Linked DNA regions of Homo sapiens: region 1 is linked to region 2. Evidence: fine-mapped expression QTL. A gene starts in region 2. The other region holds a variant in brackets. All regions are shown on one strand. Distances are from middle to middle.

Region 1 (4,398 bases), 130 kb after region 2:
TCAGCCCCAGATTTGATGTGCAAAGCAAAGATCTAGAAAAATGGCAAAATAATCTGCTTCCATCCCGCCAGTTTGGTTTCATTGTACTGACAACCTCAGCTGGCATCATGGACCATGAAGAAGCAAGATGAAAACACACAGGAGGGAAAATCCTGGGATTCTTTTTCTAGGGATGTAATACATATATTTACAAATAAAATGCCCCGTGGAAAAAAAATTATATTCATTGCCAATTCTCTTCTTAAGCATTTAGACTGGAGAAAAATCACATCATTATGTTAAGCTATAAGCCAATCTGGCCAATCAACCCCTAAAAATCCCAAGAATAAAATTCTGATGGCCCTTCTAGAAATAAAAATAGGATAAATGCTTTGAAATATATGTGGTAACTTGCTGGAGAAAATGAATTTTCTCCAGATTTCACAAAATAAAAATGGAAACTCTTTTTGGGTTTGTTTTGAATCTGGTCCAGATGGATGAAATTCTCAGGAAACCTGACCCTTAATACAAAACTCCCATTTTTTATACATTCAAAGACGATCGCGATCAATTTATATGTCCCCTGTCTTCTAAATAGTCCTGAGGCCTTTTGTTTGAAACAGAACTTTATCTATTCCTTCCCTATCCCTACACAGTAATATGTATGTGTTACATGCACAGAACACGTTTTACAAGACATGGAAAAGAATATGGTGAAATAGGAAACAAAAGAATCAGTGATGATATCAGGATTAGAAGACGGAAACCCTAATTTCTAAATTAATTTTTTTTTAATTTAGACACTTTTTTTTAAATGTGCATGACTTTGCTTAATTTATTAAAAGATATTTAAAAGTGAAAAAGTATGTGAAAAGGAACATAATAGAATAATTGCATAGTAAAGTTACACATAACCCAATGTTATTTGATTAATTTAGACACATTTTAAAAGCAAATTTCAGGCAAAGCTCTATGATACTAACACCATTTCAAAAGGTACATATTGCTGCATACCTCTATTATCTCAAAAAGCAGTCCAGGTTCTATCACAGTGATAACCTTGTACTCAGCTGCATTTTTGCCAGGGATGCTTCCAAGAAATGAGTCTCGCATTGCACACGCACTCTCCACAGCTTCTTCCAACCCGGGCTTTTTCCAGATAGAACTAGTACTAATCCACCCAGTACGGAAAACACTCTTGGGCTCTTCAGAAGAACAAAAATAGTAAACTGCTTTACAAACATCCTAAACTGTATATGAAGCTCTAACCATTAAATAGTTACCATTAATGGGAAATAAGAATTGTTATTTATGGTAATCAAGTGATGAAATATTATGGATCCATCCTAATTATTTACAAAACATTTATATCAGCATTGGAAAATCTTTGTTATATTTAAACAAAAGAGAAAATATATAATAAGATCTCAAAGAAAAAAAGGATGCTTAGAAAAAAATAAATAGAAATATCCCAATATTAACAGCTATCAGGAGTAACATTATAAGTGACTTCCCCCTCTTCCTACACTTCTATAGTTTCTAATTTTTATAAACTTAATACAATCAGAAGAAAACAACTAACATAAAACTCACTAAAAGCACTATATTTTGTTTTAATACAACCTAAAATATATTTCAGAACATTTTTTTTGACAGTCTTGCTCTGTCACCCAGGCTGAAGTACAGTGGCATGATCTTGGCTCACTGCAACTTCCACCTCCCGAGTTCAAGCAATTCTCCTGCCTTAGCCTCCCAAGTAGCTGGGACTACAGGCACCCGCCACCACCATGCCCCACTAATTTTTATATTTTTAGTAGAGATGGGGTTTCGCCATGTTGGCCTGGCTAATTTTGAACTCCTGACCTCAAGTGATCTGCCCACCTCGGCCTCCCAAAGTGCTGGGATTACAGGTGTGAGCCACCATGCCAGCCATTTCAGAACAGTTATAAAGGTATTTAAGAAAAAAGGTGATTTCTCGACACTGTCAAGCTGCTAATACATTTCAGAAAGCACAGAATTCTGAAATTTACCCTACTCCTCTACAAATAGGTGCAGAAACAAATACATGACCAAGACACACTGTGTCACACAGCAGTCACTGTAAATGGATAAGTGCCCCTTTTATGAAGCAGATAGAAGTAGAAGTTGCACCTTGATCAGGGATATTTCTCATTAAGAGAATAAATGAAGTATTCCTTACCTTTAATATAAGGTATGTGCTGGAACACCTCTTCAGCCAGGTGAGGAAGAATGGGAGCAAAAGAACGAACTATTACATCCAAAATTTCAACTAATGCAGTCTGACAAGAGCGTCGTTTGGGGTCATTTTCCTTTTCACAATAGAGCCTGAACAAGAACAACTTATTCAGCAGTTGACAATACTTTATACATTATGGTCACCTAGATGGGACCTGCCTCAGGTTGAGTTTATTCCTAGTGGCTAATCCTATGGCTCTAATCATCTTCTACTTAAAGAATACAATACACTCTCCTACAATTTTACTCCGTCCAGGTGTACCCACCTCCTTGAAAGCACTCATGGCTA[C/T]GCTATCTCATTCTGTTTCTCAGGTGGATGACAACTAGAGTCTAGACTACTGTATTAAAGGACTATGAATAAGTTAGTTGATGGTATTTAACATGTGGCTCCCACCCACTCCAATGTTATTAGTGTTTTAAGGGAAGGAGTAGGAGTTATAATCCCTATGTGCAAGGTCCTTGGGGTGCTGACAGGCTGAGGATAACGCCTCAGACTGGACTCATTACCATGAAGGTAGGACCGTCACCTGCACACTGGAGCAACAGATGAAGACTTGGCATCAAGGCCTCTTCTACAAGGATACTGCTAATATTATACACTGTTACCATATAATTGCACATATATATCTCTCTCTTCCCCTCAGGATTTGAGAACTCCTGAGAACAAGCATTATGTTCATCGTCTGATATTAGTAGTGATGATTTTTTGAACACTTTATCAAGCACAGCTTTAAGCACATTATTGCTTTTCCTTCTCAATCACGAGGTAAGTATTATTATACCCATTTTACAGATGAAGAAACAGATTACAGAATAAGTTGCCCCAAATCAGAAAGCTAGTAAGCGGGAGGTCAAACCTTTATACTCAGACTTGACTCCGGAACCCAATCTTTTTTTTTTTTTTTTTTTGAGACGGAGTCTTGCTCTGTCGCCCAGGCTGAAGTGCAGTGTCACGATCTCGGCTCACTGCAAGCTCTGCCTCCCGGGTTCACGCCATTCTCCTGCCTCAGCCTCCCAAGTAGCTGGAACTACAGGCACCCGCCACCACGCCCAGCTAATTTTTTGTATTTTTAGTAGAGACGGGGTTTCACTGTGTTAGCCAGGATGGTCTCGATCTCCTGACCTCGTGATCCGCCCGCCTCGGCCTCCCAAAGTGCTGGGATTACAGGCGTGAGGCACCACGCCTGGCCCGGAACCCAATCTTAATAACTGCACAACACTGCCCATCTTGCTCATCACTGTATCCCTGACGGTTGCCAAACACAAGTAGACACTCAAAAAATACTTGTTGAGGTTTTGTTGTTGTTATTTTTTGAGACGAGATCTTGCTCTGTCACCCAGGCTGGAGTGCAGCAGCACAATCTCTGCTCATTGCAACCTCCGCCTCCCAAGTTCAAGCGATTCTCGTGCCTCAGTCTCCTGAGTGACTCGGATTACAGGCATGTGCCACCATGCCCGGCTAATTTTTGTATTTTGCCATACTGGTCTCGAACTCCTGGCCTCATGTCATCCACCCGCCTCGGCCTCCCAAAGTGCTGGGATTACAGGCGTGAGTCACCACACCTGGCCATTGTTAAGCATTTTAATATTTAGTCATACATACCTATCTTTGATTATACTGAAATAAAAGTTAGAGAGCTCTCTGGTATAAAACGTCCGTAACAGCCGAACAACTTTTCCAAAATCATATTGTTTGTATAATTCGGTAATCTAGGGAACAAAGCCAAAATAAATTTGGAAGCTGAGACAGGCAAATGAAAATGTAAGTCATCACAAGCAAAATATGCTCCTTTCAAAAATATGTTTCAATGAGACAAATACAAAACAGGCAATATGCAAGAACTCCTGGGAATCTTCCAAATGTCATTTCTGGATAACACATTTGACTACACTCAGAAAATACTATTTTACTCTGAGAACTACGAAAGGACATTAATTAAGGAAAGAATGAGATTGTAAATAACAAAATCACACCATTTTAACAACAGCAAACAGTGGACGTCACCAACAATTCATTAGTGTTCCTTCATTTATGCCTCATTTATTTTTGATTTGGGCAAAATTGGTATGTACACCTCTGACTTAAGGGTACACTAATGCAAACACATTTCCAATTATGAGAAAACACAATTTTTTTTTTTTAAGACAGGGTCTCACTCTGTC
Region 2 (4,398 bases):
CTTGAATGGTTTTCAAGGAATGACAGTCTCCTTCCAGAAAGTGTCATGTGTTTGTTATTCGTCCAGTAACACTAAGAATCTAAATTTAAATTTTGGTTTAGTTTGGGATTGGTGCTGGATTTTAGGGAATAATCTTATCAGGGCTGGATTATTCTAGTTAGTGATGATCTGAGGAAACACTGCATTTCTTCAGATGGAAGAAGGGAGCACTGGCAGCTTGCTTTTTCTGAAAGCTTTGATTACAGAAGTATAGGTCCCTGATGCTTAAAGGGACCTTACAGCACATCTGATTCAACTGCCTTTTATAGGTGAAGAACTGATTCCTGTTAACCTGATAACATAGAAATTGCCTATCCTATTTTGTGAAAATCATCCTACTCTAGAAGTAGGAAATAATGGAGTAGGAACCTGGGCACTAAATTATAGTTGTTATATTATTAGGACTAAGTGTGTATGTCCACGGGCCTGACAGAAATGAATGCTCTGGACCCCATCCACTTGCCTTTCATTTGTTCCTGTGCCCTTTTTTCATACAAAGTGGATGGCCTCTTTAGGTTTCCTTTAGGAAATGTGTAAGTGCCTACAGGCCTTTGTGCTCACATTAAAATAATTTTTTTTGTTTTTATTTTTTGGAAAAATAACTTAAAGTCTGCTCAGAGACAGCTCAATTTCTTTATTTTAAAAATGGGATAAGACACACTATTTTTAGATGGCATTTGTGACTATCCAAATGAACAATGTAAAGTACTTTCAAAAATAGTGCTTTGTCAAAGAAACAAGTTATTCTATTTACTTTATGTATGCATTCCATTTATTTCTTCAGCAAATATTTATGAAGCACTTACTAGCATGATCACAATTTCAGTTAAATAGTTAAGTACAGTAGTCCCCCCTTTATCCATGGGTTCATTTTCCACATAATTATTCAATTTAATTATTAGTTATTGTTAATCTTTCACTGTGCCTAATTTATAAATTTAACTTTATCATATATATGTATAGGTAAAAACATAATACACATACATAGGTTTCAGTACTATCCATGGTTTGAGTCATCCACTGGGGATCTTAAAACATATCCCCTTGGATTAAAGGGAAATACTGTAATTAATTGCTTACTGCCTGTATCAGTCACTAGAATTCCAGCTTTCTGGGAAAAGGTACTTCTTCTCTTTTGTTCTCTAATGCTCAGCACCCTGCGTGGCTGGCATTTAAAAGACTAACAAATATTTGTTGAATGGATGGATGAATGCATGAATGAAAAACCAAATGAATAATGAAAACAAAAGTGTATAATACACTATAACACGTACTATATTGGGCTTGCGTAGTACTATGGGAATCTATAGTAGGAGCATTTAAAGCCAGCCTTGACGGGGCTAATCTCCGGAAGAGCAATTAATCTTTTCAAAATCCGACTCTTGCAGGATACGGTCCCCCACTGGCCTGCCACTAGTTTAAAACGAATTAGTTTCTGTGAAACATCAGGATCGTGCCAATAGTAGGGGACCAATAAGACTGAATAAGTCAAAGGGCTGCGCGGACAAGTCCAATTAGAACACCTCTGGCTAAAAGCCAGAATGAATGAAAGGGTTCATGCCTCGGCGTAGACACACAACTGGGACTGAAAAATCTGCCCCAAGCCTCCACGTCGACTTTGGCTCCACCTGCAGCGGCGGCGCCGTAGTCACGTGACCCGGGCCCCCGCGCCCTAGGCGCCTGGGCCAGCCTGCGCCTGCGCAGTACTCGGAGACAGCGGACCCGTGTCAGTGACAGCTTCCGGTTTGGTTTCTCCGCCTTCTGCTTGGCTAGAGCTATTGGGGCTCGGTGGCGGCCGCAGTGGGGTGGAGGGGGCAGGGCGTGGTGAGGTAAGGTGAGTGCCGTAGTGGGGTTCCCTGGAGCCATGGCCTGCTCCATTGTCCAGTTCTGCTACTTCCAGGACCTCCAGGCCGCCCGGGACTTCCTCTTTCCTCACCTGCGGGAGGAGATCCTCAGCGGCGCCTTGCGGAGGGACCCCAGTAAGTGCCTCTCTGGCCTCGCCCTTCCTTCCCTCGTCACCCGCGGCCTCTGCTCACGGGTTCGAGTCTCCTACTCGCTCTGCGCCTCCTGCCTCTGCCCTCTGGACCCCCAGTTCTCCCCGTGCCTCCCCTCCGCTCCGGGATGACACCCTGCCCACCTCGTCCTGAAGCCCCATTTGTGTTGTCTTCCTCTCGACCCAGCTTTTCTCCTTAGGCCCTCTGACCCCTGGCTAAAAACTGCGTCTTGTTTCCTCTCGCCTCTGCCTATCACCGCTTTCTCCCTCCCTCCCCCCACCCCCACACATTCCTAGCTTTCTCTCTGAGTATCTTCTCCGTCTCCCATCTTCAGCCTGGGGTCGTTCCCTGTTTCATGTTGCCTGCTCCGTGATCGCATCCTCCCCGTTCCTTGCCACATGTCAGCGCTCCACTCTGGTATTGCCCCAGCTCCCACTCTCTTCCATCCCGGAGACTGTGGCCTTCTGCTACCTCCCATTCCGAAAGTGTTGATCATCCCCCCACACTCTCCCTTCTTTCATCTGCATTTCCCCCATTCAGATTTTGAGAACAAATGGCTGACAAATGAGTGACTCTTGAGGTAAGACTCTCTCAAAGAAGGAAAATAACCTGTCAGGAAGTGAACGAGAATCTACATTAGGAACTAAAATTACAGTGACATAGCCAAGAAAGGTTAATTTGCTTTATTGAAGCCTTCCACCTATTTTTATCATCAAAGTGTTTAATAAGCCTTTCCCCAAGTAGTATAAAGTTCCAAGGCTGGTTTATTAGATACTATATAGGCTTTCAGAATTTCGTACATTTCATTTTGAAAGGGTGTGCCTTGTGTTTTATTTTATTTTATTTTATTTTATTTTATTTTTGCATTTCCAACCTGAAGCACATTTGGCTTTGTAGTACAGCGCTCTCACTTTGTGCTATACCGGAATGGTGATATAAAGCCCACTAAGCTCCTCTCCCTTTTTTAGAAAATTTAGAAGATATCAAATCGAACCCATCTGTGAATGATTGCATACTTTGTGCCAGTCATTGGTGCTACAAACCAAATAAGGTTGGTGGACCCTGCTGTAGGAACTTCTGGTTTACAGACAAATCATTAACTTCCATTCAGTGTGACTGAGATATACATGAGGCATTTTCTTGAAGTGGTGATACTTAAGCCTACCTTTGAAGTACTAGTTAGAGGAGTAAAGGAGCAGTAATAGCATGTGCAGAGGAAGGGAGGCCTGAAATGGCATGGTATTTAGAGAACTAAGAAAAGCTGAATGGCTGGAGAGGAGGATGGGAGAGGAAGAGTTGGGGCAATGAGGCAGTAGTAGTAATAAGGAGCTAGACCATGAGAGGCCTTGTGAAAATTGTGGCGTTTCTCTGAAAGTTTAAGTAGAGAAATGACATTGTCAGATTTGTACTTAATGTAATCAACAACATTTGTTGAAGACCTGTAATGTGCTCTGGTAGCAAAGTGGAGGAGAGATTGGAAGAAGGGAAATGGATTGGGAAGCTCTTCCAGTAATCCAAGCAAGAAATTATGTGAGCTTGAATTAAGAACCTTAGTAGGATGAAGATGAAGGACTAGATTAGAAAGACGTTAAGGAGTTAGAATCTGCAGGACCTTGTGAAGGTCTGGTGATGGGCATTGTAACTAGTAAGTGAGGGGGAGTTTAGGAAGTCTTTGGCTTGTGGTTTGGGCAACTATATGTAATAAGAGAATGAAGGATACAGATTTTCAACCTTTTGCATTTTAAATGTTTATGGTATGTCCAAGTAAGGACATCTGGTTGAACACCAGATATAGATAGTCTAAACAGTAGGGAGTACTGGGCCAGAGATGTTAATTGGGGAGCTAACAGCAAAAAGTGTCAGTTCAGTCTCAAGGATTATGTATGTTGTGAAATGCACTGAGTACTAAAGCTGTAAGCTTAGAGGAGCACTGGTGTTTAAAAGTCAAGTAGAGGTTACTGGGAAGAAGACTGAGAAGGAGTAAAAGAAAGAGGAAAATCATGTGAGAGTAAGGCCCTCGGAGCTGAGGAAGGCGAGAACTTGATGAGGGTGAGGAATGGTCAGCAGTTTTGCAAATGCAGCAGGGGTCAGGTAAGAAAAGGATAGAAAAATGCTTATTGGTTTTGAGAAGGTGGAGGTAACTTGGACCTTAGGACAGTTTCAGTAGGATAGTGGAGGCAGAAAGCATAGTTATAGGATAAGGGGTTAAAAAGTGAAATATACTATTTCAAGGAGCTTGGCTGTGAAGGATAGCAGATGCAGGATTGTAGATAGGGAATGTAGAAAAAAGGAACAGATTTTCTTTATCCTTCTACCACTCTCCTGGTCCAGGCCACCATCTTTTCTCAACCTGGGCTATGATATG

The links. PIP is the estimated chance that this variant, and not a neighbour inherited with it, causes the effect.
Region 1: its variant is the best candidate, but not a certain one, in a credible set for the expression of RAB3GAP2 in sigmoid colon (GTEx, PIP 0.76).

What each region holds. Positions count from the first base shown.
Region 1 is chr1:220,139,730-220,144,127 of GRCh38, reverse strand. It overlaps IARS2 (isoleucyl-tRNA synthetase 2, mitochondrial), which reads right to left. Exons shown (of 23, transcript NM_018060.4): 19 at 3,839-3,945; 20 at 2,180-2,325; 21 at 994-1,184. It also overlaps the pseudogene RPS15AP12. Among named protein-coding and RNA genes, the nearest start is that of MIR194-1, 24 kb to the right of the region's middle. The variant C/T (reference allele first, on the strand shown) is at 2,525.
Region 2 is chr1:220,269,843-220,274,240 of GRCh38, reverse strand. It overlaps RAB3GAP2 (RAB3 GTPase activating non-catalytic protein subunit 2), which reads left to right and starts at 1,788. Exons shown (of 35, transcript NM_012414.4): 1 at 1,788-2,018. The coding sequence starts at 1,904. RefSeq lists an enhancer at 3,193-3,694.